Regions from separate parts of the Homo sapiens genome. Here regions 1, 2, 3, 5, 6 and 7 are each linked to region 4. The links come from fine-mapping of genetic effects on gene expression. A gene starts in region 4. Each other region holds a variant in brackets. All regions are shown on one strand. Distances are from middle to middle.

Evidence for each region.
Region 1: its variant is fine-mapped to the expression of FARP2 in hippocampus (GTEx, PIP above 0.99).
Region 2: its variant is fine-mapped to the expression of FARP2 in sigmoid colon (GTEx, PIP above 0.99). The same link has a PIP of 0.9 or more in aorta, coronary artery, esophagus mucosa, esophagus muscle, gastroesophageal junction and lung.
Region 3: its variant is fine-mapped to the expression of FARP2 in skeletal muscle (GTEx, PIP above 0.99).
Region 5: its variant is fine-mapped to the expression of FARP2 in whole blood (TOPMed, PIP 0.98).
Region 6: its variant is fine-mapped to the expression of FARP2 in whole blood (TOPMed, PIP 0.98).
Region 7: its variant is fine-mapped to the expression of FARP2 in whole blood (TOPMed, PIP above 0.99). The same link has a PIP of 0.9 or more in blood mononuclear cells.

What each region holds. Positions count from the first base shown.
Region 1 is chr2:241,505,512-241,509,575 of GRCh38, reverse strand. STK25 (serine/threonine kinase 25) reads left to right here and starts at 992. Exons shown (of 12, transcript NM_001271977.2): 1 at 992-1,133; 2 at 1,441-1,570. The coding sequence starts at 1,541. LOC107985788 (a long non-coding RNA gene) reads right to left here and starts at 704. Exons shown (of 2, transcript XR_001739177.2): 1 at 479-704; 2 at 1-138. RefSeq lists silencers at 588-1,357, 1,638-1,687 and enhancers at 2,118-2,167, 3,323-3,859. The variant T/C (reference allele first, on the strand shown) is at 2,250.
Region 2 is chr2:241,455,866-241,459,929 of GRCh38, reverse strand. FARP2 (FERM, ARH/RhoGEF and pleckstrin domain protein 2) reads right to left here. Exons shown (of 27, transcript NM_014808.4): 14 at 3,008-3,183. Among named protein-coding and RNA genes, the nearest start is that of MIR3133, 20 kb to the left of the region's middle. The variant T/G (reference allele first, on the strand shown) is at 2,026.
Region 3 is chr2:241,392,855-241,396,918 of GRCh38, reverse strand. All of the region lies in intron 2 of FARP2 (FERM, ARH/RhoGEF and pleckstrin domain protein 2), which reads right to left. Among named protein-coding and RNA genes, the nearest start is that of FARP2, 39 kb to the right of the region's middle. RefSeq lists a silencer at 3,708-3,767. The variant C/T (reference allele first, on the strand shown) is at 1,999.
Region 4 is chr2:241,353,970-241,358,033 of GRCh38, reverse strand. FARP2 (FERM, ARH/RhoGEF and pleckstrin domain protein 2) reads right to left here and starts at 1,749. Exons shown (of 27, transcript NM_014808.4): 1 at 1,646-1,749. SEPTIN2 (septin 2) reads right to left here. Exons shown (of 13, transcript NM_004404.5): 13 at 4,007-4,064. RefSeq lists a silencer at 1,412-1,961.
Region 5 is chr2:241,244,338-241,248,401 of GRCh38, reverse strand. HDLBP (high density lipoprotein binding protein) reads left to right here. Exons shown (of 28, transcript NM_005336.6): 13 at 54-158; 14 at 286-399; 15 at 1,260-1,346; 16 at 1,519-1,650. Among named protein-coding and RNA genes, the nearest start is that of HDLBP-AS1, 26 kb to the left of the region's middle. The variant A/G (reference allele first, on the strand shown) is at 1,997.
Region 6 is chr2:241,251,257-241,255,308 of GRCh38, reverse strand. HDLBP (high density lipoprotein binding protein) reads left to right here. Exons shown (of 28, transcript NM_005336.6): 9 at 151-258; 10 at 1,812-1,916; 11 at 2,274-2,352. Among named protein-coding and RNA genes, the nearest start is that of HDLBP-AS1, 19 kb to the left of the region's middle. The variant A/G (reference allele first, on the strand shown) is at 1,876.
Region 7 is chr2:241,269,042-241,273,105 of GRCh38, reverse strand. All of the region lies in intron 1 of HDLBP (high density lipoprotein binding protein), which reads left to right. It overlaps HDLBP-AS1 (HDLBP antisense RNA 1), which reads right to left and starts at 942. Exons shown (of 2, transcript NR_168372.1): 1 at 1-942. RefSeq lists silencers at 49-328, 599-908 and an enhancer at 1,049-1,128. The variant TA/A (reference allele first, on the strand shown) is at 1,736.

The DNA.
Region 1 (4,064 bases), 150 kb before region 4:
GAAGAAGGAGGGATGTGAGGAGGTCAGGATAGTCACCTGTGCTGAGCCATCATGGAGAGTGAGGGCCTGTAAGGGTGGACACAGTATGCAGGAGGGACAAATCTTCCTCACCGGACAGGTGGGGATCCCTGCGGTGCACTAGGGGAATGCACACAGGGGGCACTATGACCTGGCGGCCCACGGGGCACGGGGACGCACCAGGTAGCCTTGGGATCTGCAAGTCCCTCCCGGACCCTGGGGAGTGCCATGACGGCTTCCAGCAGCAGTCACTGTCCTGGGCGCGTCCCGCGCTCTAGCCCAGGTGGGTCCCACAACGGTGTGACCAAGGACGTCCTATGACCACCCCTTGACAGGTAAGGAAACTGAGGCAGGAGAGGCGAAGCAACTCGCCCAAGGAATGGGCTGTGCCGGTAGCTTCTCCAAGGCCTGGTGCGCCCTGGCCTGTGCGCGTGATCCCGGGCGGGGTCTCAGTACGAACAGGGGCTTCGCGATGTGGCCAGCGCGGGCTTATCTCCGTGCCGTGACGACAAGGCTAGAAGCCTGGGCGGCCGCGGTGGATCCTCGTGGCGAGGCGGGGAGGGCGCCGGGCCTCACTGGCCCGCTCGAACCAGGGCTGCGCAGGGCAGAGCCCAAGGGAGAGGGCCGCGCGGCCGCCGTAACGTCGGAGACGACGCCTGGCAGGCGCCAGCAAACGCAGAAGACCCGCGAGGGCGAGGCAGGGAGGGCGCGACGCGACAACGACCACGTGCCCCGCCCGCCCAGGCGCGCGGCCTGCCGGGAGACGCAGTCCAAACCTTTCGGGAGCAGGACTAGGGGTCCCAGAGAGCCTCGCGGCGCGCATGCGAGCCCCGGCCCCCTCTCGCGCAGCCTGCCGGGACTTGTAGTCCAACGCCAGCAGGCTTCCGGGCCCGGAGTGGGCGGTGGGACTCGGGGTCCCAGAGAGCCGTGCGCGGGCCGCGACGCCGAGCACCGCCCTCGCCGTCGCCTCCGGGCTTTCTCCGGTCGCTGCCGCCACCACCGTTGCTTCGCGGGCTGGGAGGCCCGGGGTCCCCGGGCGAACAGAGGCTGCGGGTGGGAGCCTTCGCGGGCGCTGCAGAGCGGGCCGGGGGAGGCCGGGATGGAGCCCCGCGGAGGTGGGCGCGCTGCCGGGCGGGGCGCTTGCGGCGATTGGGGAGGGGGCAGAGGGAGGGGCCCGGGGCGGGGCTCGGTGGCGGGGACACCGGGGCGGGGGCACCGGGAGGAAGCTGCCTTGGAAGAGGTGGGGGCGGCGACGGGAGGGGCGGCGAGCCCCCGGGAGCCTGGGCGTTAGGCCCGGGCGTGGCGGGGCCCCGGCGGCCTGGGGGGTCTCCTGGGCCCCCCCCCACCCATGGAGCCCGCCGCCCCGGAGGTCGGTCTCAGATGACTGAACTGGGCACCGAGCGCCCCTGGTGTCCCTCGCAGTGGACTGACGCCGCAGGGGCGAGCTAGCCGGCTCCGCGCCTCTCCGCGGGATCCAGACGCCTCCTGGGGCTGCTGGCGGAGGGTCTGAGGCGGCGCGGCCATGGCTCACCTCCGGGGATTTGCCAACCAGGTGAGAAGGGTGCAGGTCAGGAAGACTAGCGGCCTCTCACCGAGGGGCTCCAGAGTCTCCTGGGGGTTCAGAGGGGAGCGCCACGCCGGAGCGGGCAGTGGGGTGAGGGAAGGAGCGCGCGTCGTGCGACCAGCGGAGCCGTCCTGAGGTGGGCGCAGGGCGGCCCCGGGGCTCTGCCGTGTGCCTGTGGCGTTTTGCGTGGCAGAAGCTCGCAGGCCTCTAGAAACCGAGCCCCTGGTGGCTCCGCCTGTGCGAGGGCGGTGGAGGTGCGTGAAGAGACACCGGCGCAGGGACGGGGCGCTGCCCCCAGCGCGGGGCGGGAACCTCATGTCAGCATCCGAAGGCAGTGGAAGGTCGGGGGCCACCCTGCGGCCTCGGCCTGGGCCGCGGGTCATTCTGGCCGTGTTGGGCTGGGCAGGGGCTGTAGGGGAGACCCTGGCGGGCGCTGAGGGGCTGAGATTGTGGAGAAGCAGATCTGAGTGGCCGGTGTGCAGGGAAAGCAGAGAACACGTGTGTGCTTTGGCCCAGGGGAGGGTGAAAAGGCTGCTCTGTCAGGACCGTTTAACCCCTGCGACGGGCGGTTGCCCGAACATGAGACTCATCTTTCTTCTTTAAAGAAGTCGTTTCCACTATGGAGCCACCTTTAAGCGTCTGGTGGGACAGCCTCGGAGGGAGCCAC[T/C]ACGGCGAGCCCTTAGCCTGGAATGAGGACCAGCTGCTGGTGCCAAAGGGCTTGCCGGGGAAGGAGGGTGGGGTCAGCCAACCTGGGGCCTGGGGACTTGCATTCTCTACCCCTCCCCACTTTTTTGACTCTGGCCGCTGGGTTTTCTTACATCTTAGCTGTTCGGTTTTATTCTCCTTGATGCCTTGGCTCTACCTAAGGCGTTGGAATCGCCGCTAAAATGTGTGGCCCTCCTTGTTCACTCCTATGTGCTGAATGGAGAGTTGGGCCTGCAGTGGAACAGGAAGGGCGTCTGTTCGCGTAGGGGCAGGAACTGGAGTCAGGGCTGCTTTGGAGGAAACCGGACCAGCCTAGAGACCCGGAACACCATGTGCAGCTGTTGGGCCAGGCAACCTGGACCTGCGTGGTCACAGATGAGACTGGGGCTTGCTGACTGTTGCTGAATTAAGCTAACAGATTTTTGGTTTGCTTTTGGCATTCTGTATCTGGTAACTTACATGACTAAGGTGCTGGGAGAAAAATCTGCCACCAGTTTATTTTACTTTATTTTTATTTTTTTGAGACGGAGTTTCGCTTTTGTTGCCCAGGTTGGAGTGCAATGGTGCAATCTCAGCTCACTGCACCCTCTGCCTCCCAAGTACAAGCGATTCTCCTGTCTTGGCCTCCCAAGTAGCTTGGATTACAGGCATGCGCCACCATGCCCAGCTAATTTTGTATTTTTAGTAGAGACGGAGTTTCACCATGTTGGTCAGGCTGGTCTCAAACTCCTGACCTCAGGTGATCTGCTTGCCCTGGCCTCCCAACGTGCTGGGATTACAGGCATGAGCCACCGCGCTCGGCCACCAGTTTATTTTTAAGAACTGCAGAAATAACTCCTTTGGGTCACAGGATGAGAAATTGGAGCTCCGAGGTGCCCTGTAACTGTGTGCTATTGGTTCTTGGTGCGATCGCACACAGGGAAGGGAGTGCGGGCACATTGGAGAAGGGATTCCAAAGGTAGGAAGCTCCTTTTGTCCTTTTAGGGATCCCTTTGTCCCAGCCTGGATGATGAGAGACTTGACTTCATATAGTGGCAGAAAACCTGAGGGGCTGTGGTTTTCTCCTGAGATGGTTGCCATGGTGTCCTGTGGACCTGTGGGGCAGCCCCTTTGTGGGAGAGTGGGGCGCGTTCCCCCCATAGCCTGTGCTCCTGCCTTAGACTTCTCCCCTCTACCTGGCCAGTTCCTGCCTGGCCCTGGAGGGCCCGAATGGCTGTGGGGTGCCAGAGCACTGTATCACCACTCAGCTATGTGTGCTGGGTCATTCCCCTTGTTTTGTGGGGCAACACTGACAGCAGACACATTGGCAAGTGGAGGCCCCAGACCTGGCAGCCCCAGGGCTAATGTGGAGAACAGGTGTCCACCGCTCGAGTCAGCTGAGTGGCCCGAGTGATCATCCAGGCCACAGCTGCTGCTACATCCAAAAGAGGATTCGCAGCCTCCAGGCCAGGGGCCCACTTACCCTTTCTTCTCCAGGTGGGGGTGGGGATGGCTTGCCTTGGCTTGGCCTGCGATGTCATTGTAGGGCCAGGATCACAGCCAAGAGGGTTCCTGTCACACAGTTTCTGCTTGGGCTGATGAGCCCTGGCTCTGGCTTAGGGGTCCGCTGTGCTCCCCTGCTGTGAAGCAGTAGAGGTCTGAGTGCCCACCCAGGGGTTTCCCTACCGGGGCTGCTGTGATGGAGCAGATTCAGCTCCAGGCCCTGTGTGGAGAGCAGCATGGCCTCAGCAGGGAGCAGGGAGTAGAGCAGGGCGGGAGGACGCGTCATCCAGAGAGG
Region 2 (4,064 bases), 100 kb before region 4:
GCTGATGAGACTTCTCATCACAGGTGCCACCAGTGGGTCACAGGGGAGTCAGGGGAGCAGACTGGCCAAGAGAAGGGTCTTCCGTCCCGCCCCTGCCCCCGCCCCGCCCCGCCCAATCAGCCCAAGGAATACCGTGAGAAGACTCTCAGGGACAGAAAATACAGCAGCTGCCACGCTGCCCCCACCTCTAGATCAATGTCAAACCTGACCCCCAGCAAGCTGGGCTGCAGGCCAGGGATGAGACGGCGGCCAGGGATAGGCCCAGAGGAGCATGCAATTCCTGTGAGCTTCGCCACCTGTCCCCACATGAAGGGTCTATGTGCCCATGCAGAGCGTGGAAGAGGCTTCTGCCACCTTTGGCTTTCCTACCTTTCGACTGTGGCCGATCCTCACAAATCTCTATTAAAAAGGGGACAAACAGTGCATCAAGTGGGAGACACTGGGGAGGAGGGCACCAGCTGGCGAGGGTGGGCTGGAGGGTGGGCAGCTCTTTGCCCCTCCCCGCACAGCCCAGCAACTGGGTGCAAGTGCAAAAGCTTGACGGGTGGCCTCAGTGGCAGCACGTGCTTCTCAGACCCCTGTCACCCTGGCTCCCCAGGAGAGTGGTCTGCCAGGCCTTGCCAGCAGAACCGTCAGTGAATGTGGGGCCGGGGTCTCCCCAGAACCTGTTGCAGCCTGGCTGGGCACACTGGTTCATGAGGTCAGCACAGAGGGGTACTCTGGTGGGAACCTACCTCTGGGTCAAACCAGCAGCCCCTGCATGGTGATGAAAGGGCCATCCTTGCCATCTCGGAGCCCACCTGTGCTGGGCAACAGCCTTGCTATCTCAACTCACACACACAGAATTGAAGCAGAGCCCAGAGCCCTCCCTCCAGAGCCCAGGTGTTGAGGAGAGGCAACAGGAGACACCACGTCAGGGCTGAGGGTGCCCACACGCAGGGGCTGGGCCCAAGGGCTGCCGAATCTTTCTCTGCAGTGACCCAGCCACCAACTCCTCAAGGGCATGGCTCGGTGAGGACCCTGAGGTGCCCCCATCCCAGAGGGCCTTGCCATGCTGCTGGCCCCATGCCACGTCATGACTCACAGGCTTCTCCCAGGGCCACTTGCCACCAGCCCAATTATCCTCAGATGTGACAAGCTGTCATCCTATAGAACCATCTAAAGAATCAACTGATTTTTGTAATATAAAAAGTTACAAATTAAAATTTAGTCTTAATAACAGACTGCTTGGTAGCCATTTTTTTTTTTGTACCAAAGAAACAGTGAACTAAAGAGATTGTCATTAGGTTTCCAAAATAAAATAAAAAGACATCTTTTTTGGAAACAGTCTTGCTGCCAGGGCCCAGAACTAGCCCTCACTTGCAGGCCTCGTGCAGCAGTACGTTTAATATCCTTTGCTGCCTCCAGACCAGGGGGCTCCTTCCACTCCAGTGGGATCCAGGGGGACCCTCAGGGCACCAGGAAGGAGGAGACTGCCCTGCCTGTGCCATCCTACCTGCTGAGAGTCCCAGCATCCCACGGGTAGCCCTGGCATCTGGAAGGCAGGCCTTGGACAGAATATCCTCTGGCCAATTCGGGCCAAAGCAGGAGTGCTGAGGTGTCACAATGACATACCTCCCCCTGTACCAGCACTGACTCCCTCCCTCCTAGAGGCCCCATGGCCTCTTCCCATCCAGCTGCCACTCAGGGACCCCATGTCTCCCTTCTCTGTGGACTCCAGGCCCAATATAGTCTACAAACTCCCTGGACCCTGAGTCTTTTCTTTTAGGGTCCATCTGCAAAACCGTAGCTGTAGGCAGACTCCCCTGGGCTAGGAGAGTGGAGGCCACCCTGAGGCCACAGCATCCCTGCCCCTGGTTGCCCTGTGCCTGCCAGCAGTGAGCTTCTCTGCTCGGTCACTTTCTCCCTGCAGACTCTCAGTTTGTGCCCTTATTCCTATCATCTCTGATAAAAAGAGACCCATAGGGGACACTGCCTCAACTTTGTCATAAAGCCTCACCCCTGTCTGTGGCCCATGTGCCCCCC[T/G]CCCCGTGCCACAACAGCAGAGAACCGCCCCCTCGCCCCAGGTGGCTCCTCCACTGTCTCCAACATCGACACGGGGTCTCCCGCCCAAGAGCCTCTCCAGAACCCAAAGCGGTCCCTAGTGCACCCTCCCTTAGCACCCAGATGTTTCTACACTGGGTCTCCCGCCCAAGAGCCTCTCCAGAACCCAAAGCGGTCCTTAGTGCACCCTCCCTTAGCACCCAGATCTTTCTACACTGGGTCTCCCGCCCAAGAGCCTCTCCGGAACCCAAAGCGGTCCCTAGTGTACCCTCCCTTAGCACCCAGATCTTTCTACACTGGGTCTCCCGCCCAAGAGCCTCTCCGGAACCCAAAGCGGTCCCTAGTGCACCCTCCCTTAGCACCCAGATCTTTCTACACTGGGTCTCCCGCCCAAGAGCCTCTCCGGAACCCAAAGCGGTCCCTAGTGTACCCTCCCTTAGCACCCAGATCTTTCTACACTGGGCCTCCTGCCCAAGAGCCTCTCCGGAACCCAAAGCAGTCCCTAGTGCACCCTCCCTTAGCACCCAGATCTTTCCTCCCAGTTACTCAATTGTCAAAGTAGAAGCTTGACCAAGCAGGGAGAGAAGAAAGGAGCAAAGGAGGGAGGACGGGAGGGAGAAATGAGGAAGGTGGGAAGGAAGGAAGGAAGAGTGGGGGAGGCTGGAAGATCCAGCCTGACACATGGAGCCTGTGGGTTCCAGGGACCGTTTGCTAAATGAATAAGGAAACTCGTTTTTGTACGAAGGAACCTGGAGTCCCAGAGATAAGAGGAAAGTCTCAGGAAGGTTTTGCTAGGGAAGGCGGCCCAGTACCTCCTCTCTGCTCAGGAGGCTGGTAAGGCGGCTGTGAGTGCAGAGCCCTTCCCTGCCCCGCCCCAGGGTCCCCACCAGCACCACCCGAAGGAACAGTGAAAACAGGCCCACCCTGCAACCCTCTGCTAGCTTCTCAGCCTCGAGGGGCCCACCTTGTGTCTGGGCTCCTCGCAGTCCATCCCGGCTCCGCCAGCATCACTGAGGACAGGGCTCAGGAGTGGGGATGAGCCCTGTTCAGCTGGGCCCAAAGGCACCTGAAATGCAGGGCTCAGACTCAGGGGGCTCTTCCGGCTGGAGGGAGAAGGCTGAGGACTCTTCGTGGAAAGGCCTGGAAATGAACGGGGAGGGGGATGGAGCGAGAAATGAGAAAGGGCTGTGAGGCTGGCTTAGAGCCGCTACTACTCTCCTGACCATTCAACCGCCAGCCTCACACAGTGCCAGGCGCTTCCTGTAAAATGTGTATGTACAGCCTCTATCACACACAATTCTAAACATGACATAAAATGAAAATGAGGGTTGATGGTTCATCTACCCAATTTCAGAGAGCAATCCACAGACAGTGTGGATCCTCCCCGGACTCTAGGGGGGCCTGGATACCAACCTTGTGTTTCTAGGGGCTTCTTTTGGGCTCTGCAGAATATGTAACTATGATAAAACTAAGCACCACAAAGTGTGTAAAGCAAAAGGCACCACCAGGACGGGGGAACACTTTCTATGTGCATTGCTAGAGGTTAGAGACTTAAGATGTCAAACCAGGGCTAACATCTGAAAAGACAATGTCTATTTTAAGGCCAAACTTATTATTCATTAAAAAACGGATCATATAAAACTGCTCAATTCATGATACTGTTTTCCAGTTCCTTGAGTTTTTCATTAATGGGGATTTTATTTTGGTTTTCTAAAACACAGTAATAATTTTCCCCTTCTTAAAACCATGTTTGTTTTCGAATAAATAGGTGCCAAATTTGCAGCCCAATTCTAAAGATGATGAAATATATTTCATTGTGTATTTTATAATAAAAAAATCCTTTTCTATTTAAAAAAATTCTCAAAGGTTAATTTCTAATGTTTTTCTATGGGAAACCAGTAACTATTAAGTGCCAAATTTTAAAGATAACTTTACCTCGCTAACACGGTGAAACCCCATCTCTACTAAAAATACAAAAAATTAGCCGGGCATGGTGGCAGGTGCTTGTAGTCCCAGCTACT
Region 3 (4,064 bases), 39 kb before region 4:
TTTGCCATTGTGAATAGTGCCGCAAGAAACACACGTGTGCATGTGTCTTTATAGCAGCATGATTTATAGTCCTTTGGGTATATACCCAGTAATGGGATGGCTGGGTCAAATGGTATTTCTAGTTCTAGATCCCTGAGGAATCGCCACACTGACTTCCACAATGGTTGAACTAGTTTACAGTCCCACCAACAGTGTAAAAGCGTTCCTATTTCTCCACATCCTCTCCAGCACCTGTTGCTCCCTGACTTTTTAATGATCGCCATTCTAACTGGTGTGAGATGGTATCTCATTGTGGTTTTGATTTGCATTTCTCTGATGGCCAGTGATGATGAGCATTTTTTCATGTGTTTGTTGGCTGCATAAATGTCTTCTTTTGAGAAGTGTCTGTTCATGTCCTTCACCCACTTTTTGATGGGGTTGTTTGATTTTTCTTGTAAATTTGTTTGAGTTCATTGTAGATTCTGGATATTAGCCCTTTGTCAGATGAGTAGGTTGTGAAAATTTTCTCCCATTTTGTAGGTTGCCTGTTCACTCTGATGGTAGTTTCTTTTGCTGTGCAGAAGCTCTTTAGTTTAATTAGATCCCATTTGTCAATTTTGGCTTTTGTTGCTATTGCTTTTGGTGTTTTAGAAATGAAGTCCTTGCCCATGCCTATGTCCTGAATGGTAATGCCTAGGTTTTCTTCTAGGGTTTTTATGGTTTTAGGTCTAACGTTTAAGTCTTTAATCCATCTTGAATTAATTTTTGTATAAGGTGTAAGGAAGGGATCCAGTTTCAGCTTTCTACATATGGCTAGCCAGTTTTCCCAGCACCATTTATTAAACAGGGAATCCTTTCCCCATTGCTTGTTTTTCTCAGGTTTGTCAAAGATCAGATAGTTGTATCATCACTCTAGTTTAATTTTTTAATATATCATTTTTAAAGTACTAAACATAAAAATAGATAATTTGTAGGCCATATGTTTCAGGAGGGCAGAAACCATATTATGAACTTTGATCAATAATTAGATCACCACACTCTTGGAGACTTTCAACAGAAAGAATTATCCCTGAGGACAGAATCCCAGGTAGTTCCTGATACTTCAACTGAAATTATTGGAAAACAAACAAACAAACAAACAACAACAACAAAAAAACAACTGTCAGGAGAGCCCTTTTTTCCCCCCACATAGTAGGCACTCAGATGTCTATTAATGAAAAAACAAATCACTTCATAACTGGAAGAAACATTTCTGTTATGACCATAAATACTGAAGTCCAACCTGACATAAGTTATTAAAAGGTGGGCAATTCAACATGACCAGAAGTAGCAGGCAGTGTGTGAGGTACAATGCAGGCCACAAAGAAAGGCTCTGCAAACCAGCCAGGTGACCACAGGGATCTGGGCCATTCTTGAGCTTCTCTGCAATGGCATAAATGCATGGTTTCCAAGGATGTCAAGAAATCTGGGAAGAGGCTGACCTGTTATTTTTCAAACCTAAAGAAGACCAAAATAGAAAAAACAGATTTAATTTGAATAGCTAAATGTAAGGAAGAATTGATGGTCAAAATGATAAATATAAAATAAGGTATAGAGATATATTTTTAGCTCTTTGAACTTTTTGGTATATTGTATAATCATCTCTAAAACAGTACCAACAGCCATTAAGCCAAGGGTCAGTCATCCTCTGCTCTAAGTAGAAGAGGAGCAGATATTCTCCAGGCCCTTTGTGGCTCCTGAGTTGATCACAAGGAACAGGTTTCCTCACACCGTCCTAAGGGCAGAGGCTTTGGAGTAGGAATCCTGGTTTCCACTTGGTGGGTATGCTTAGGCTCGGCTTCCTCAATTGAAGAACAACACAACTCTTACCCTGAATGGGTTTTATGGGAGTGTAATAAGGTAGCACAGGAAAGCCGCTGAGCACCATGCCTGGCACACGGCCTCTCCAAGTCCAATACTGCTGCTCGCTGTCTGCCCACACAGAACAGTGTGAGCATCACCAGAAAACATCACACACAG[C/T]GAGGGCTCATGCCCCTCCTGAGTAGGGAGTAGGGTTCATTCGGGACAGGTCCTCAAGCGTGCAAAACAGCTTCTTAATAAGGTCTACAAAAAGTAAGACCACAGATGAGAGGGAGAGCCCTTTGATTCCATGATGGGTGCATGTTACTCAACACAGCATCCAATAATTTCTTTTTCCTGCCAACATGTAAAACATATTTTAAAAATCAAAATATTTTCCATAATGTACTTTAAAGAAACCAAACTTTTTTCAAGAATTCTTGCCAAAGTAATTTTCCACAGGTTCACTCTCCATAATTTGTATAGATGCCTTACGACCTGGACAGTAGGTCATAAAGTGTCATAATCAGTTCTATTTTCAGTGTCACTTGTATCAGTCACATGTCTTTTTTTTTTTTTTTTTGAGATGGAGTCTCGCACTGTCACCCAGGCTGGAGTGCAGTGGCGCGATCTCGGCTCACTACAAGCTCCGCCTCCTGGATTCATGCCATTCTCCTGCCTCAGCCTCCTGAGTAGCTGGGACTACAGGTGCCCGCCATCACGCCCAGCTATTTTTTTGTATTTTTAGTAGAGATGGGGTTTCACCGTGTTAGCCAGGATGGTCTCAATCTCCTGACCTCGTGATCAGCCTGCCTCGGCCTCCCAAAGTGCTGGGATTACAGGCGTGAGCCAAAGCACCTGGCCCACATGTCCACTTTTATCCTTTCAAATCTTCTCGACTTAAAACATACCTTCTGGTCCTAAAAATACAGAAATTCACTATCAGGTGGACTACAATAATCACTGCATGTTCCCAAAGTACCAAATGATCAGATGAAACAAGATTCTCCCTGCACTAGGTCGGAAGGGCCTCACAGCCAGTTAGAGCACTGGCATCATCCAGATGCTCAGAATGGAAGAAAACCCCGCCATCACACTGTGCTTCCTGCTGAACTCAACATTGACTCAAATCAGAACTGTTTCAATACTAGGCTGGAGGAGAAACAGTATTAAGAACATAGTATAAAAAATACAAGTTAAAAAGCAAAACTTTTTGTTCAGTGTTTCCAGTTTTCTAGTTGGTCATGGTGTTAAGGTCCTTTTCCAGGCTTAGGTATAAACAATATTGTTAAAAACTTACATTTACAAAACTATTAAAGGTTGTGTCTAGATGAAAATGGGCGACAAAGGCCTGGCTAACAAAGTACTTCTTTATTCTTTGTCTTAAGCTCTGTGGGAAAATTCTTCTTGAAACAGCTTTTGTCCTTTAACTTGTTTCATGTGCTCATTTACAGTTCATTTGCCAAATTATAACTCCTCTATCTATCTAGATGGCCCCTCCTATTATATAATTCATATCTGTACTGTAAGTTTCATTACTTAAGATTTTTATTGCCTAATTAGATCAATCCCAAATTTCCTTTTATAATATTATACTGTACAATGAAAATAATCTTGAGCGCTCAAAAGGAAACTGTAGCTACATTCTTTGAAAGGTCACCAACATTTTTGATAGGCATTTCACTCTCATTTTGGCACATTTTCAAATCTTGGGTTCTCACATATTCCTAAAATACTGTACACCAAACTTCTACTCCAAATTGCACTAAGAACCATAAGGAGGCCGGGTGCAGTGGCTCACGTCTTTCATCCCAGCACTTTGGGAGACCGAGGCGGGTGGATCACCTGAGCTCAGGAGTTTGAGACCAGCCTTACCAACAAGGTGAAACCCTGTCTCTACTAAAAATACAAAAATTAGCCGGGTGTGGTGGCAGGTGCCTGTAGTCCCAGCTACTCAGAAGGCTGAGACAGGAGAATTGCTTGAACCCAGGAGGCAGAGGTTGCAATGAGCTGAGATGCCACCACTGCACTCCAGCCTGGGCAATGGAGTGAGATTCCATCTCAAAAAAGAGAGAGAAAAAAAAGAACCATCAGGAGTAGCGTTAAATCTCAGCAAAAAGATGTTAACTGCTACTTCTGCTTTTTTTTTTTCTTTTTTGAGATGGAGTCTCGCTCTATTGCCCAGGCTGGAGTGTAGTGGTGCCATCTCGGCTCACTGCAACTTCTGCCTCCCGGGTTCAAGTGAT
Region 4 (4,064 bases):
ATTTTTAGTAGAGATGGGGTTTCGCCCTGTTGAGCAGGCTGGTCTGGAACCCCTGAGCTCATGCAATCTGCCTGCCTCGGCCTCCCAAAGTGCTGGGATTACAGCCACTGTGCCTGGCCAAGTAAATTTTAAACTCATTTTTTGAATAAGGAACCTGAGGCAGAGAGAAATGAATACACCTTATATCAACTTCCTCTTTGGGAAAGGAATTAGTATACAAGGAACCTGGAAATTTACTAACGACTGATAGTCCTATAGGTAAATAAGCCAGCAAACGTCTGCAGTCCAGGAAACTGCATCATCAGCATTTAGTTTGTTAACAGTGAACCACCTAATGAGAATCTGCAACAAGGATAGGGCACATGAGAAGTACAGATGGTATTTGCAAGTACCCTAGGTGTGACCCTAAACTGGTCATTCCACCTCTCTCAACCTCCCTTTCCTCTACTTTAAAACGGGGCTGTGCAACTTGGTCATGTCTCTGAAGAGTTTTGGAAAACTGAATAAATAACGAGCATGAAGTGCTTCCTAAACCTTTAAGGACCTCAAAAAACAAAACAAAACAAAACTTTCAACAAGCAGATGTAGAAAATTTAAATTATATTTGGCCTACAAGTAAAGGTTACTCCATGCTTCCCTACCTCAAATGTCCTCTCCCATCTCTCTGGTACTGAGAAAATCTGTGTCGCCTGTTATAAGGCAGTCTACACAAGACCAACACGCTAACCCACTGCCACCTCAGGGTTATCAAACATTTACACAGTGGCCCAGACAAAAATATCCCACGGAAACAAAACAAAAACAAAAACCCAGAGAGAAAAACCACCCTTTAAAGATTTGGCCTTGGGTTTTAAATTTGCCCATCCCTTTTTAACACTATGTATTGACAATCTTTCCTTCAATGATGCCTTGTTCTAATTTCTGCTTTTCACATCCATTAATGGCACATGATAGGCCAGGGGTTGCTGCCATAGCGTAAACGGAAAAGGTGCCCGTAATTCGGGTGTGTAATGTACTGGGCCATATTCTGGTCCCCAGTTTTCATGGGTTTCCCAAAGGCTACCCACTGGCTTATGAGTATTTCTAGCCCTTAGTGGAGTAAAAATATTAACACCTAACACTTGATTCCCACCTTTAAGATACAATTTAAAGAAATGCTAAAAAGGCAAACGGCTCAAAATGCCTCCACCAGGCACCTCCAGGCCCATACCCTGCGGGTCCCTATGGCCCACTCTGGGGTGTCCTTCCGGGATGGGACACTCCCCGGCCCACGGCCCTGCCGGCCTCCACGGGGCACAACTCAACCCGCGAGTCCACGCGGGACACTCCCCGGTCTACAGCCCCACCGGCCTCCTCCACGCGGCACCCCTCAACCCGGGAGTCCACGCGGGCCACTCCCCGGCCCACCGCCCCGCCTGCCCCCACGCGGCAGGCTCCCTACAGACGGACGCTCCTCTAACCCGGACCCGCCTAGGAGCTCCAGCCGCCTCACGATGGCCTTCAGAGGCCGGGCGGGACCATCTCTGGTGGACCGCGGCCTCAGCGCCCCCCCCGCCTGGGCCTCTCGCCTCGGGCCTCGGGCTTCGCCGCCCACCCGGAGAGGCCCACCCCTGCCCCACGCGCCCAGGCCGCTTCACGTCCTCACCCTCGGCCTCTCGCTCGCCCGCCGCGTCCTCACCGGCCTCGCCCGGCCTCCGCAGTCGCAAGCAGCAGCCGCCAGACTCGCGTCGGCGTCGCCTGCTCCCAACTGCCCGCCGGCAGCCCCCGCGCAGCGCGCCCCGCCCTGACCCCGCCCCCGCGACGCGGACGCGCAGTCGATTGGCCTGCGGGGCGCCAGGGCGGAGCCTTCCCGTCCCGCGGCCTGAAAGCGCAAGATCGAGTTCTGATTGGTGAACGGACGGAGAAGGGGCGGGAGCAGGCAGGCAGCTGCGTAGGATATAAATCTGTGCAGCGCTCGGCTCGTTGGGCGGGGCGTCGGCTTGCTGAGCGAGGCAATGTCCTAGGCGAAGCCAAGGCTCGCTGGGCGGGGCTAGATCTTGGGCGGGGAGTCGGCTCGTTGGGTGGGGCTAGGTCCTGGGCGGGGAGTCGGCTCGCTGGGCGGGGCTAGGTCCTGGGCGGGGAGTCGGCTCGCTGGGCGGGGCTAGGTCCTGGGCGGGGAGTCGGCTCGCTGGGCGGGGCTAGGTCCTGGGCGGGGAGTCGGCTCGCTGGGCGGGGCTAGGTCCTGGGCGGGGAGTCGGCTCGCTGGGCGGGGCTAGGTCCTGGGCGGGGAGTCGGCTCGCTGGGCGGGGCTAGGTCCTGGGCGGGGAGTCGGCTCGCTGGGCGGGGCTAGGTCCTGGGCGGGGAGTCGGCTCGCTGGGCGGGGCTAGGTCCTGGGCGGGGAGTCGGCTCGCTGGGCGGGGCTAGGTCCTGGGCGGGGAGTCGGCTCGCTGGGCGGGGCTAGGTCTTGGGCGAGGTCTAGGCTCGCTGGGCGCGGATAGGTGCTGGGCGAGGCCTAGGCTTGCTGGGCGCGGATAGGTGCTGGGCGAGGCCTAGGCTTGCTGGGCGCGGATAGGTGCTGGGCGAGGCCTGGCTCGCTGGGCGGGGATAGGTCTTGGCCCGGGCCTTGCCGGCTGTCCTTGCACCCTTTGGCTCAGTCCCTGGCTGCCAGCCTCCTCCTTCCTCCAACGCATTGCATCCCTCGTGGGACTACAGGGACCGAAGGGGATCATCGAAGGATCGCGCGAGGCTGTGCTAAGGCTGAGACAGGCTGCTCCGTGGTGGCGGCCAGGACGGCCTTCCTCTGGCCTAGGGACCCCCACCCGAGAATGGAAGACTGACTTGCTGTGGCACACTTCCCTTCTCTTGAGAAGTTCATTGAACTCCTATGTGTTCTTCAAGACCCTACCCATCGTGCTCTCCTAGCCCGGCCCTGTCACCCACTGTCACCATGTGGCTGTTGAGGGAATAATTAACTTCAGGAAACACCCGGGCACTTAAGAGACTCCTCCTATGGTGCTGTGGATTCCAGAGTGAAACCTGACCCTTCGTTTCCCAGAAGCCCAGACAGGAGAAATGCTGGCTCAGGGGAACCTCCATTTCTCCTGAGACAACTATGGGGTCTGAGACCCAGGCACACCAAGACTGGGCTCAGCTGTGCGGGATGCTCCCCTCATGTGCCACCCACCTCTGGGGCTTTTCCTTTAACCAACCCCCAATGACACCACCAGGCCCAGAGTGGTGCACACACCCCAGAACAGAGGATCCCTGCCTGCAGACGGGCAGGGCCGGGTGGGGATAGTGCAGGTGAGAGCCTGGCCAGAGGGTGGTACTGACCCCTGGTAGGATGCAGGGTGTGTGCTGGTGACCTGAGGCTGGCAGTCTGGAGGGAAGGCAGCAGGCGTGGCAGCTGTCAGCTGAGGAACTAGAGAGAGCAAGTTTCAGTATCCAGGGGTCTGTCTATAAGGAAGCTCAGAAAACACTGATAGCAAGGTAAAAGGGGCCCAAGGTGGTCCTGGGATGATCAGTCCAGTGGGCAGGAAGAAGGCTAGAGGCCTTGGAGTGTAGGTGTCCAGCCACCCAGATCAATTCAGGTTTCCAGTTTCCTTTACTCAAGTGGCAGAGCCGCCTTAGCCTATTCTTGAAAATTTATAGGTTAGAAATTTCTTCCTAGATATATTTCAATCATTCACTTATATTTCCAGTAATTTAGTAGTTGCTATTATCAATGCGATTTCTTTTCTCACTACATTTTCTAATTAGAAAATAGATATCACTGACTTCTTAGTGTTAATTTTCACCAGATGTCTTGTACTTTCTAAGTAGATGTTCTGATCACCTGTAAATAATTCCTTTCCAATCTTTTGTGCTTTCTTTTGGGCTGGATCTCCAATACGTACAAACTTGTCCAGTACTGACACTATTGATTCAAGTAATTTTTCTTGATTTTATACAAAGATGTTGTCAAGACTTTGAATTTTCCCAGAAAACCTCACAACTTTCCCTTGCAAATAACCAAGAGAAATACTCATTTAATATCTAAACAATAGTGCTTTATTGATAAAAGGTTAGTTTAAATGGATACAAAA
Region 5 (4,064 bases), 110 kb after region 4:
GAGTTGCTCGCCGTGCTTGTGATAAATGACATCTACTTTAATTGTATTTTTAGGAAAATGAGCGTACCAAGGATCTAATCATTGAGCAAAGATTTCATCGCACAATCATTGGGCAGAAGGGTGAACGGATCCGTGAAATTCGTGACAAATTCCCAGAGGTAAAGTTTCCCAGAGACATTCTGTAACTCTATAGGAGTGATCCAAGTCACACTTCAGGAATATTTGATATTTGGGATATATGTCCTTCCTCATACTTGAACTTAGTCTCCCCATGATTTGTTCTAGGTCATCATTAACTTTCCAGACCCAGCACAAAAAAGTGACATTGTCCAGCTCAGAGGACCTAAGAATGAGGTGGAAAAATGCACAAAATACATGCAGAAGATGGTGGCAGATCTGGTAGGGGTGTTTCACATCCTTTCTTGTATGACAGCACCTGGGGTGGGTGGGGCATGCGTCCTGTCAGAAGTCCTGACCCCCACAGGACCCCTGCTCTGGGGAAAGCACATAGGCCCTGGGCTGGCCTTCCATCTCAGGGACTTGGGACAAAGTGGTGACGGCTTCTCACTTAATACCTGGATGTTTAGATTGGCAGTCATTGTTAAGACTGCAGTGTTTGTGGAATTCAGGTGGGGAGATTTGCCTTTTCTCATGCCCAGTTACCTTGTTTCCTTGAGGAGTCTTCAGATACTTAGAGAAATTGTCCCATCCAGTAAGATAAGAGGTATAACAGGTGACATGAGGAGTCATATACTGATTTATTATTTTTCTCAAAAACTGACGTGGGAACAGGTTTAGAAAGTGTAGTGAGTAGTGGATGAGAAGGCCACAGGCAGCCATGTATTTCCGTGGGCTTCACCTTAGCTGATGGCTGCCCTGGGAGAGGCGATGGTGAAGGACTCCAGCACTGTGAGCTGCTGTCACATCACTGCCGTGAGTGCAGAATTGCCCAGAGCGTAGGGGTCCGTGCTGTCTCCATGTGTGTTCTGAGCCCCTTCCTTAACCAGCTCTGATCCTGGCATGGGACATGAACTCTCTCTTAGCCAAAAAGTAGACTTGCATCGATTGACTGTAATTTGCAACGTAAGTTAGTTGTTGGACAAATGATCTATCTCACTTACCCTCATGACAAACCTCTGAAGGTTTGTTTGCAAATACCAGTGCTCTGTCGTGTTCATGCTACCCTTAGGGGTAGAAGGGATACTGTATTTTACTCTCTAGCACAGGTGGTGAATCGGGCTGTGTTTTTTGTCTTTAAGGTGGAAAATAGCTATTCAATTTCTGTTCCGATCTTCAAACAGTTTCACAAGAATATCATTGGGAAAGGAGGCGCAAACATTAAAAAGGTGATAACTTGTCCGCTGCATCTTGCTTCTTCTTGCCTTGTCCTCTGTAGCCCTGCACCATTTTGGTTTTAGACTAGGAGGGACTCTTCCTTACTTCTAGCCCTGTGCTCAACTGTGTCTCAACTCTGGGAGAGCTCTAGTCAGCTTCTCATGGTGATCTCTCTCCCTGTAGATTCGTGAAGAAAGCAACACCAAAATCGACCTTCCAGCAGAGAATAGCAATTCAGAGACCATTATCATCACAGGCAAGCGAGCCAACTGCGAAGCTGCCCGGAGCAGGATTCTGTCTATTCAGAAAGACCTGGTAATGGGAGATGTTTTCTAATGGAGATCCTCCAGTAAAATCTCTAACAGCCTCTAAGATTGAGCCTGGGGTTGAGTCACGCAGGGTCATTGGGCCAGCGCAGGCTGATGTGGAAGATTGCACCTTTCAATCCAGGCTACTGATGAGTTGGTCAGCAGTTTTCTGCCTTTGTCTCTCACGATACTTACTTACCTGGACCCTGCAGCAGTAACATTTGACGTGGGCACTTGTCTTATTAGACATTTTCTTCTTGTTACCTGAAAATCTTATCTGAAGGTATTTACGGTATTTTCTTTCCTTTAAAAAAAATTGACATGCAGTAAATTGTACATATTTACAGTGTACA[A/G]TGTAATAGTTTTGACGTGTGTATACATCCATGGAATCATTCCCACCATCACCCCAAAAATGTCCCATGCCATTTTGTATTACAGTCTCCCTCCATCCCACTTGGCAGCTCCTGAAAACCACACTCCCCCCACCCCCACTTCTATCCCCAGGCAACCCCCAGTCTGCTTTCGGCCACAGTAGATGCTTTTGGATTGTCTACGCTTTTGTGTGAATGGAATCATAACATCTACTCTTTATTGGGCCCATCTGCTTTCACTTTGCAGGATATTTTGACATTTGTGTGTGTTGTCACCTGTATTGTTGGTTTGTTCTTTTTTATTTCAGGATAATATTGCACTGTAGGGATAGATCATCTGTTTCTTTGTGTGTACTTGGTAATTAGTGTCTTTCAAGGGGTTTTCTATTTTCTCCAAGGTGTCAAATGTATTAACATGAAGTTTTTTAGAATAGTCCTGCATTATCCTTTTGCTGTCAATACTGACGTCACCTCTCTTTCACAGTATATGTAATCTGTGCCATTATAAAATGATGCCTTTTCCCTGGTAGTATGCTTGGCTCCAAAGTCTATGTTATTTTTTTCCCCCTTATATTTAAAATTTTTTTGGAGATGAGGTCTTGCTGTCGTCCAGGCTGGAGTGCAGTGGTGCAGTCATGGCTCACTACAGCCTTGGCTTTCCAGACTCAAGCAGTCCTCCCACCTTAGCCTTCCAAGTAGCTGGGACCACAGGTGCATGCTACCGCACCAGGCTAATTTTTTTCTTCTTTTAGTTAGTAGAGATGAGGTCTTGTTATGTTGTCCAGGCTGGTCTCAAACTCCTCAAGTGATCCTCTCGCCTTGGCCTTCCAAACTGCTGGGATTACAGGTGTGAGCCACTGCACCCAGCCTCCTTTATATGATACTAAAGTGAGTTTCTTTTTGGCAGCTTGCTTTTTAAATTAAATCTATCTACTAATCCCAGCACTTTGGGAGGCTCAGGTGGGCGGATCACTTGAGCTCACAAGTTCAAGACCAGCCTGGGCAAAACCCCGTCACTACTAAAACTACAAAAAGAATTAGCCAGTAATGGTGCTGCATGCTTGTAGTCTCAGCCACTCAGGAGGTTGAGGTGAGAGGATGGCTTGAGCCTGGGAGGTGGAGGTTGCAGTGAGCTGAGATTGCGCTGCTGCACTCCAGCCTGGGCCATAGAGCCAGACCTTGTCTCAAAAAAAAAAAAAAGAAAAAAGATTATGATGTTTGCATTTAATTACAGTTGTGATTATATATGTTATATATCACATATTTATATTTATTACATATGTTTAACAAACACGGTTAAATAACTTACTGTAATTTTTTTCCTCAATTGTGGTAAAATATACATAGCAGAATGTATCATTTTAATCGTTTTTTAATGGTTAATTCAACTGAGTACATTCACAAGGTTGTGCAACCATCACCCTGTCCATTTTCAGAGCATTTCCATCATCTTACACAGAAACTACACCCATTAAACAGCAACTACCACCATCCCCACGTGCTCAGCCACCATGATGTCATGATTTTATATGATTGGCTTTCAGTCCACCATTTACATTATTAACCTTTAAAAAAAATTCCATTATTTTTTAAAGAGATTTAAATAATATGAAAAAATGTATGTATTTATCCACACAGTTGCCATTTCTAGAGCTCTTCATTTCTTGGCGTGATCCTTGTCTTCATTTTCCTTCTGTCTGAAGGAAACCACTCAACATCTCTCGTAGTGTGTATCCGGTAATGACTTCTTTCACATTCTGTATGTCTGCAAGTATTTTTTTCCTTCACTTTCGAAAAGCTGTTTCTGCTGCATAAAGGTTTCTAGGTTGGCAGTTTTTTTCCTTTCCAGACTTGGCTTCATTGCCGTCTCCTGTTGTTTCTGATGAGAAAGCTGATGGTGCCCCTGGCTTTGTTCCTCTGTCCATGACAAACCTTCTCCCTCTGGCTGCTGTTAGGGTTTTACCACCGTCTCTGAGCAAGTTAGGATGTGTCTCTGTGTAGTTTTCTTCATGTCTCTTAGCTTGGTGTTTATTGAGCTTCTTGAATATAT
Region 6 (4,052 bases), 100 kb after region 4:
CTCTCGATTTGTAAATCCTGGGGCCTGGACACAGTGCAGGTGCCCAGGTTTGGGGAGAGCGTGCCTCTGAGCCCCAGGTGAGCAGCCTGGCTTTCACTGTGACACGACCTTGAGCTCTGCAAACCCATGGCTGTTCTCCCATTTTCTTAGGCCAATAGCTTCACCGTCTCCTCTGTCGCCGCCCCTTCCTGGCTTCACCGTTTCATCATTGGCAAGAAAGGGCAGAACCTGGCCAAAATCACTCAGCAGATGCCAAAGGTAAGGACACGTTTTTCACCTGTTGTATTGAATTTGTCTTGTTTTCTGTCTTTCTGTTTCTGATATTGCTTTGTTGACCTTTGTACTGTGGATGCCCTTGAAAACTGGTGTATTTTTCTGAATTAACTGGCCTGTTTGACATGGTCAACTTCCGTGTTAGCTTAAAGAACAGCAGAATAAATGTCTGTAGATGTCTGTACCATCCTTCTGGCCTTTAACCAGAGAGGATTGTATGTTCTTAGGTTTCATAAGTATCTTAAGAAACATGTCATTTAGTAATTATGGTGAAATAACTTCATGATACTTTGGCGGGCCGGGTGCGGTGGCTCATGAGGTCAGGAGATCGAGACCATCCTGGCTAACATGGTGAAACCCCGACTCTACTAAAAATACAAAAAATTAGCCGGGCTTGGTGGCGGGCACCTGTGGTCCCAGCTGCTTGGGAGGCTGAGGCAGGAGAATGGCGTGAACCCGGGAGGTGGAGCTTGCAGTGAGCCGAGATGGCACCACTGCATTCCAGCCTTGGCGACAGAGCGAGACTCTGTCTCAAAAAAAAAAAAAAAATACTTTGAAGAGCAGAACTTGTATACAAATTGTATTAAGTGTGAATTTAAAGCGTTCTCAGTTTACCAAAGGAGATTGTAGCCCCCAGGAAACATGAACAAAAAAGAAATACCAGAGAATCCAACCATCATATTTAATTCCTGTTTTATTTAAACTTTGTTTCCAATTAATGTTACAGTCCTTTTTAAAAATTAAATTTTTTTTATTTTATTCCTTTTTTTTAGTGACAAAGCCTCACTCTGTCACCCAGGCTGGGGTGCAGTAGCGCAGTCATAGCTCACTGCAGCCTTGAACTCATGGGTCAAGTGATCCGCTCGTCTCAGCTTCCCAAGTAGCTGGCACTACAGGCGCCCCAGGCTAGTTTTCGTGGAGGCAGAGTCTTACTAGTTGCCCAGGTTGATCTCGAACTCGTGGGATCAAGTAGTCCTCCTACCTCAGCCTCCCAAAATATTGAGGTTATGGGTGTGAGTCACTGTGCCCAGCCCCTTTTACTTTGTATAGCTTCATATAAGGACCAGTCTGCCTTCCTTAACTCCTTACCTGGAGGATAATAAACCAGGAACTCTGGCAGCCTTGTCTATGTCAAGCAAGTTACTTTACCACCTTGGTACAGCTATACGAGTTTTAAAATTCCATCCGTGCTCTGTCTCATTCTTTATGCAACTCAAGAGGACCAGGCCTTGTAAAAGTTCAGATGGTGGAGGAGCATGTCGCATGTCGCATGCTTTATGTTAGTGGCTTCTGTGGGGCAAACGGTGTCCTTAGTGAGAGGCAGGATTATTCGGCCACAGTATTTAGTTTCCTGACTATGGCTCCCTAACCCTCCCTTTCAACTTTGTTTGATGGCTGTGGATATGTCCCTCCCTCCCTCACATCTATGTGAAGCAGTTTGGGATCAGAAGCCGCTCCGAAGAGAGCTCCCACTGGGAGCTCAGGGGCTGCAGCTGTGCCATTCTGTTTTAGCTATCTCTTTGGTTTTGGTGTGGTAGGTTCACATCGAGTTCACAGAGGGCGAAGACAAGATCACCCTGGAGGGCCCTACAGAGGATGTCA[A/G]TGTGGCCCAGGAACAGATAGAAGGCATGGTCAAAGATTTGGTAAGGTACCCCTTGGAATGTTGTGTGTGCTGGTGACAAGGGAGGCTCTGAGTTGGGCATGGGCGGTCATCTCTCGATGACATCCCACATGTCCGGGCACAGACACCCAGGGCATCCTAGCTGGGTGAGTAATAGGTTCTGAAACAACCAGAAGCTGGTCGAAGTCCTGGAATAATCGTGGGTGGAGGAAACTTCATCTTGAAGAAGGCATCTTTCAGGGGAGATGCAGGGGCAGTCTCCAACAATTCCTGACAGCTGAGTGGTCAGAAAAGGCAACCGTGGAGACTGCTGGGTTTTGGTTCAGCTCATTGGCCAAGTAACCAGGCGCATCCATGGACCTCTGTGCTCCTCCTGCAGATTAACCGGATGGACTATGTGGAGATCAACATCGACCACAAGTTCCACAGGCACCTCATTGGGAAGAGCGGTGCCAACAGTGAGTGAGGCTGTCTGTTGCGGTGGGGCCAGTGTGCCCTGAGACCCTTGTGGGGGGTGTCAGCTGTGAGAACTGTGACGTCCGTGCAGACAGTCCAGGCCCATTGCTGCCTGTAATGGGAGTTACAGACTTTACATCCTCCTGCCTGCTGGAAGAGGCCACTTTTCCTTTTCCCTTTGGTGCAGTGGTTGGATTAGAGCTGCTTGGCCAGTGGGTGAATTGTCACTTTTGGAAATCCATCTAAGCCCTCCCCAAATAACCCACAGAGGCCATGTTGAAGGCATGCCCAAGGGCAGCATTCTCTATATTTCCGTCAGACCTGCTAGGTTAGCCAATCAGTGTTGGTAGTACTCATGCCTTCTGAACGTGGAAACTGCTGATCTGGAACTCACTGAAGAGTAAAAACATTCTAGATTTGTGCCCAAGTAAAACAACATGGGGAGGGATACTTTTTTGAGACAGGGTCTCACTCTGTCACCCAGGCTGGAGTGCAGTGGCGTGATCTCAGCTCACTACAACCTCTGCCTACCGGGCTCAAGCAATTCTCCAGCTTCAGCCTCCTGAGTAGCTGGGACTACAGGTGCATGCCACCACAGCCAATTAATTTTTGTATTTTTAGAAGAGACGGGGTTTCACCATGTTGGCCAGGCTTGTCTCAAATTCCTGGGCTCAGGTGATCTGCCCACCTTGGCCTCCCAAGGTGCTGGGATTAAAAGTGTGAGCCACCACACCCAGCAGGGGGATTCTGTTGAAGAGGCAGTGATATGTCAGCCAAGGTCGCTATATGCCTCACCTGTGCCAGGTTGTAGGTGTAGCACAGTTACAGGACACTGTTGGAAGTATGTCATGTGGGCCAAGGTCGCTGTGTGCCTCACCTGTGCCAGGTTGCAGGTGTAGCACAGTTACAGGATGCTGTTAGAAGTGTGTCGTGGGCATTCTGCTGCAGGTCCAAGGATGTTTTGTGTTGTTTGTTTGTTTTTTGGGACGGAGTCTCGCTCTGTCACCAGGCTGGAGTGCAGTGGCGTGATCTCAGTTCACTGCAACGTCCACCTCCCAGGTTCAAGCGATTCTCCTGCCTCAGCCTCCCAAGTAGCTGGGATTACAGGCGTGCACCACCACACCCAGCTAATTTTTTTGTATTTTTAGTAGAGATGGAATTTCACCATGTTGTCTAGGCTGGTGTCAAACTGCTGACCTTAGTTGATCTGCCCACCTCGGCCTCCCAAAGTGCTGGGATTACAGGCATGAGCCACTGTGCCCAACCAAGAATGTTTTTTTACACCTCTTTGTTTAACTGTATGGCTATACTCACACACTCGCGTGTTCTGAAAACAAGTGCACACGTCGCGTGTGTTACCTTTGGGTGGAAGGTGAGAAGGCAAGCACGTCCTCCATTCCTGGATAGTTCAGTGGATGAAGGAGCCTTTCCCAGGTAGTGGGACACCGACCTGCATAACATGACTGACGTCCGTGTATCCGTTTTTGTTATGAGTAAACATAGCCTTGGCAGCTGTGCTGTGGCCTGTGCAATGGTGAGCTCTCTGGTGTCAGTCTTATGTTTTGTGGGCATTTTACGTGACAGCGACGAGAGTCTGTAGGCACAAAGTGACCTTTTTGCGCACTACTTGAACCACACATACACCATAAACTTGCTTTTACGGTTTTGTTTTGGTTTTGGTTAACTGTAGCGTTTGTTTAGG
Region 7 (4,064 bases), 85 kb after region 4:
TGCTCCCTTTCTGGTCTTCGGTTGTTTCCACTCGGGTTCTTGCGGGGCGCGCTCCCTCTGCTTTCTGGAGGTGATTAATTTCCCAACTCCTCGGCACCGCCTTCCCCACCCGAAAAAAGGATGCAGAACCACGCCTGCAGTTGGGTGGGCCTCCCGGGTGCTGGGCGGCCCGGGGCGGCGGGGACCCCAGCGGCGGGGCGGGCGGGCGCTGACGTGTCCAGGCGGGATTGGGCCGCCGCCCTATATAGCAGCCGGGGCCCGGGCGCCGCGCCTCGGAGCGTCCCGGCTTCTCCCGCGCGGGGGGCGAGTAAGCCAGCGGCAGGACCAGCGGGCGGGGGCCCACGAGTGAGCGCGCAACACGGGGCTGGGAGGCCTGGGCGGGCGGGCGGACGGGGCGGGCGGGCTGCCGGGCGGGGGGGTGGGGGGTGGCTGCTGACGTGGAGGCCGCGGAGGGGGAGGGGCCCGGGTGCCGCGGCCCCCACCCGGGCCCCAGGCTGCGGCCCCCGCCCGCGGGTGTCCTGCTTACCGCGCGTGGCGGTTCCGGGCCAGACCTGGGGCCGGCTCCGAGTCTCTTCTGCGCGTGGCCGTGGCGCGGAGGGGCGCGCACAAACTTTCTCAAGTCCGGTGGCGCCGCTGGGCCGCTCTTGGCTGCAAGCTGGGCTCCCCCGCCTCCTCCCGGGGCTTCGGTGGGGCACCCCTGGTGCCGTGGCCGCACGGCGCGGAGGGGCGGCCGACCTGAGCCCAGGTCGCTGACGTTGGCGGGGCCGGCCCTCCCCTCCCCCGCTCCGGCGGGGGCGCCGTGTGCGGCCAGGGTGGGGGTCCCTGGGAGGCCAGCGGGGTCCTTCCCCCCAGGTGGCGGCGGGGCGGGGGTCTGGGCGCAGACCGGGCGGCGGGGCCCCCGCAGCACCTCCACCTGCCGCGCGGGGCCCGCGTCAGTCTACGTGTTCGGGGGTGGGGAAAGCTGCTCTTCTTGGGCCTGGAGTGCAACTTGGACGTGCCCCAGGGTCGTGGATGAAAAATACATTACGGAAAAGTACCGAATTTGGATGAAAGGCGGGGAGGCCGAGGGGTTGCTGTCCCTTTAAGCCTGTCCCCGCCCGCGGGCCCTCGTGGCCTGTGGGAGGGCCGTGCTGAGGTGGCATCTGCGAAAGTTCCTCCATGCAGGATGGGTGCCGACTTCCAGAACTTGGTGAGAAGTGCGGAGCGGAGCCTGCCTTCTGCTCGCCAGTCGCCTGTGGTCTCTCCTAGATTTCGATCTTGTGATCTCTGAGTGGATCAGGATTTTATTTTCCCATTCTGAACTTTGGTTTGTGGTCTTGAGTAATTTTAGTTTTGGAAGAGGAGAAGTCTGGGTTTCAGCCGGAGGCTTTTTTGGTGCCCTCCATACCCGGTCCTGTCTGGTGCTTTAAAGCACTTGCGGGTCTCATTAACTGAGGCTGAAATGAAATTCTTCCTGGAGTATTACTGATAATTCTCTTCGAAGACTGTTGCCCCTTGAATATGTAGTTGGCAAAACTTATCACAAGGGAATCAACTTAATTACTTCCTCGTTTAAAAGCAAAAAAGTAGAACCCCTCATGTGAAGCCTTTTTTGTTGCTGTCAGAAACCTGTTAGACTTGTGCTAAACTTGTAAGCACCAGGTTTCCCACGCAACACACAGCTCTGTCAGGACTCCACGTTTTGCTCTACACGTATTAGGGCGGAAAGGGGTCTTGGTTCCTGCCCTCCTTCCTT[TA/A]GTTCTAGTTCTGTTTGCTGAAAGTTAAATTCTGAGATGTGACCTTTTTTGCTTTGGATGTTTGCACTCTGGGAAACAAAATTAAAAGTCCAGGTTCAGTATAGTTTGAGGTTTACATTAGGTGGACCTGGACACTGATTGATCCGAGCTTCCTATGGGAAAAGTAGTTGGGAGAGCCAGAATCACGAAGGGACTGGGGCCATATGGGAGGGACTGAAGGAGACAGGAGATAGGGCTCACCTACCAGAAGGAGCCTTGGAGGAGAGCGGACTTGTTCTCCATGGCCAGAAAGGGGAAAGAAGTTGTAGATTTTGTCATAACTTGAGGTGGAGCGTTTACAGCCATGCAGGGGTGGACCCGGGCCCTGAGAAGGCCATGAATTTCCTGTCCCTGGTGGTATTAAGAAATGGGATTAGATTAATATCTGAGGTTCCTTTCAATCCTGATTTGGACAGTACTGTTAGATCCAGTGAGAATCTGAGATACCCGATGTTAGCCTCTGTTCTTGGGTATCTAGGCCTGCCCAAGGTATCCTGGGAACTTCAGATAGCAAGTGGAGTTGCCTGGCGCTGTCCTGGGGTTGCTGAAAGATCCACATGGAACAGGATTAAACCCTCGTGGGTGTTGTCTGTGAAGGCAGAGCCAGGAGCAGGGCGTAGCAGTGCGGGGTGGACATGGGGCTGTAGGGTCAGCTTCTTAGGTGCTGCTTTGTTGAACCAGAGGCAGGTGGACCCCTGGGCTGTGCCTCACTGGATTGGGAGCACAGAAGGAGAATGAGACTGACTTTTAAGAAAATCTCACCCAGAATTTCAGGTGGGGACAGGGTCTGCATTTACATGTGGGTCATCAAATGCTTGCTTAAAACGCAGTCTTCGAAAACAGGTTTTTGAGTTGTTTAGAAGAAAAACAAAATGTTGTTTGATGATACCAGAACCCTAGATGTTAAATGTGTCTCTAGTTGTGAACCATTCGTTACACGCTCTGACAAACTGCCACTTGGAATCTGGAGGCTAGGGACCCAGTATAGCCTGTCAAACCAGTCTGGAGTTTTCTGGAGGTCTGCCTTCTGCCTTACCTGGCTGCCTGAGGGTCTGTGCACGCCTGAGGAACATGAGAGGCTCTGCTCCAGGGTCTCCCTCAGACACAGGAGTAGGTTCCCTTATGTTGAGACTCCTTTCAGTATAGGGTCCGGCTGGACTTGGCTTCTGAAGGGTGTGTGAGTGGTCTCAGAAGAGACTGACACTGGGTGCACAGTGGGGATTGGCTCATCACAGCTCCGTGCTGGAGAGTCGGTGCGGGCTGACATGGACGGAACTGCATTTTGCAGACTTCTAGTGTGGCTGTCACTGGGCACTAGAGACTTGCCCAGAACCTAGCTTGATAAGGGGGTGGGTGTCTGGGTTTAAGAAGTGACATTGGAGCCCGGGACAACCTTGAGTGAGAGACCATGCCAGGTGAGAGTCAGCAAGCAAGCGTGGGAGGGCGGAGGGTGGATGCGGGAGACCAGAGGCAAGTGTCACTGGACACCTGTTGGGGCACCTTAGCCTGGAGTGCCCTGCCCTGTTTTGCTCCCAGACTGGACAGACACTTGGAATCTCAAGGAGCTCTTGCCGAGTTGTGAATGTGCTAATCTGACACTTTGGAGAAATTTTCTTACTTTAATCTTTAAAACTTGCAAACTAGAATTTTGGTGATGCTTTTAAATGGAATACTCTTGATCAGTTTGTCCCAGCTTTCCCCTTCAGTCTTGGGGTACATCTGTGTGTCTGGTGCATCTGGGGCCCCATAGTGTCTCTGGTTTGTGGCAGGTTCCCTGTGTGACTCAAGCCCTGTATTTAGAGTTTTTAAAAAACTCATGACCAAGATTAGAATCCAGAAATACCACCAGTCCACATCCTCTGCTGGAAAGGCGAGACCCTTTAATCCAGTCTACTGGATGCTCCCCCATTGCCATGAACCGCCTTCTCAGCTCCGGACCCATGTGTCGTAAGGGCAAGATTATTGTCACGGTACGAGTAGTCTTCTCCAGTTGAGTGGGGTGTTCCTGTTACTGTCATTGCTTTTCCCATTTTAGACACATGCCTCACTCCTGTCAGCAGTTCCACCTTTTCATGGTTGAGGAGCACATGTGGTCGCCAGCCTCCCATCTCCAGAGTCCCCTAAGGCAAGGTGACTCACCCTCCTACTTCACAGAGTTCTTGGTCCTCCCCAGACAGCCTTTGAAGGTTCCTTTCAATCCTGCGATTTCATGACCTGGTTTCTAGATCCCCAGTGGATTAGAAAGGACTGAAGGACTTTTACAGGCTAACAGCAAGAAGAACAAAGTAA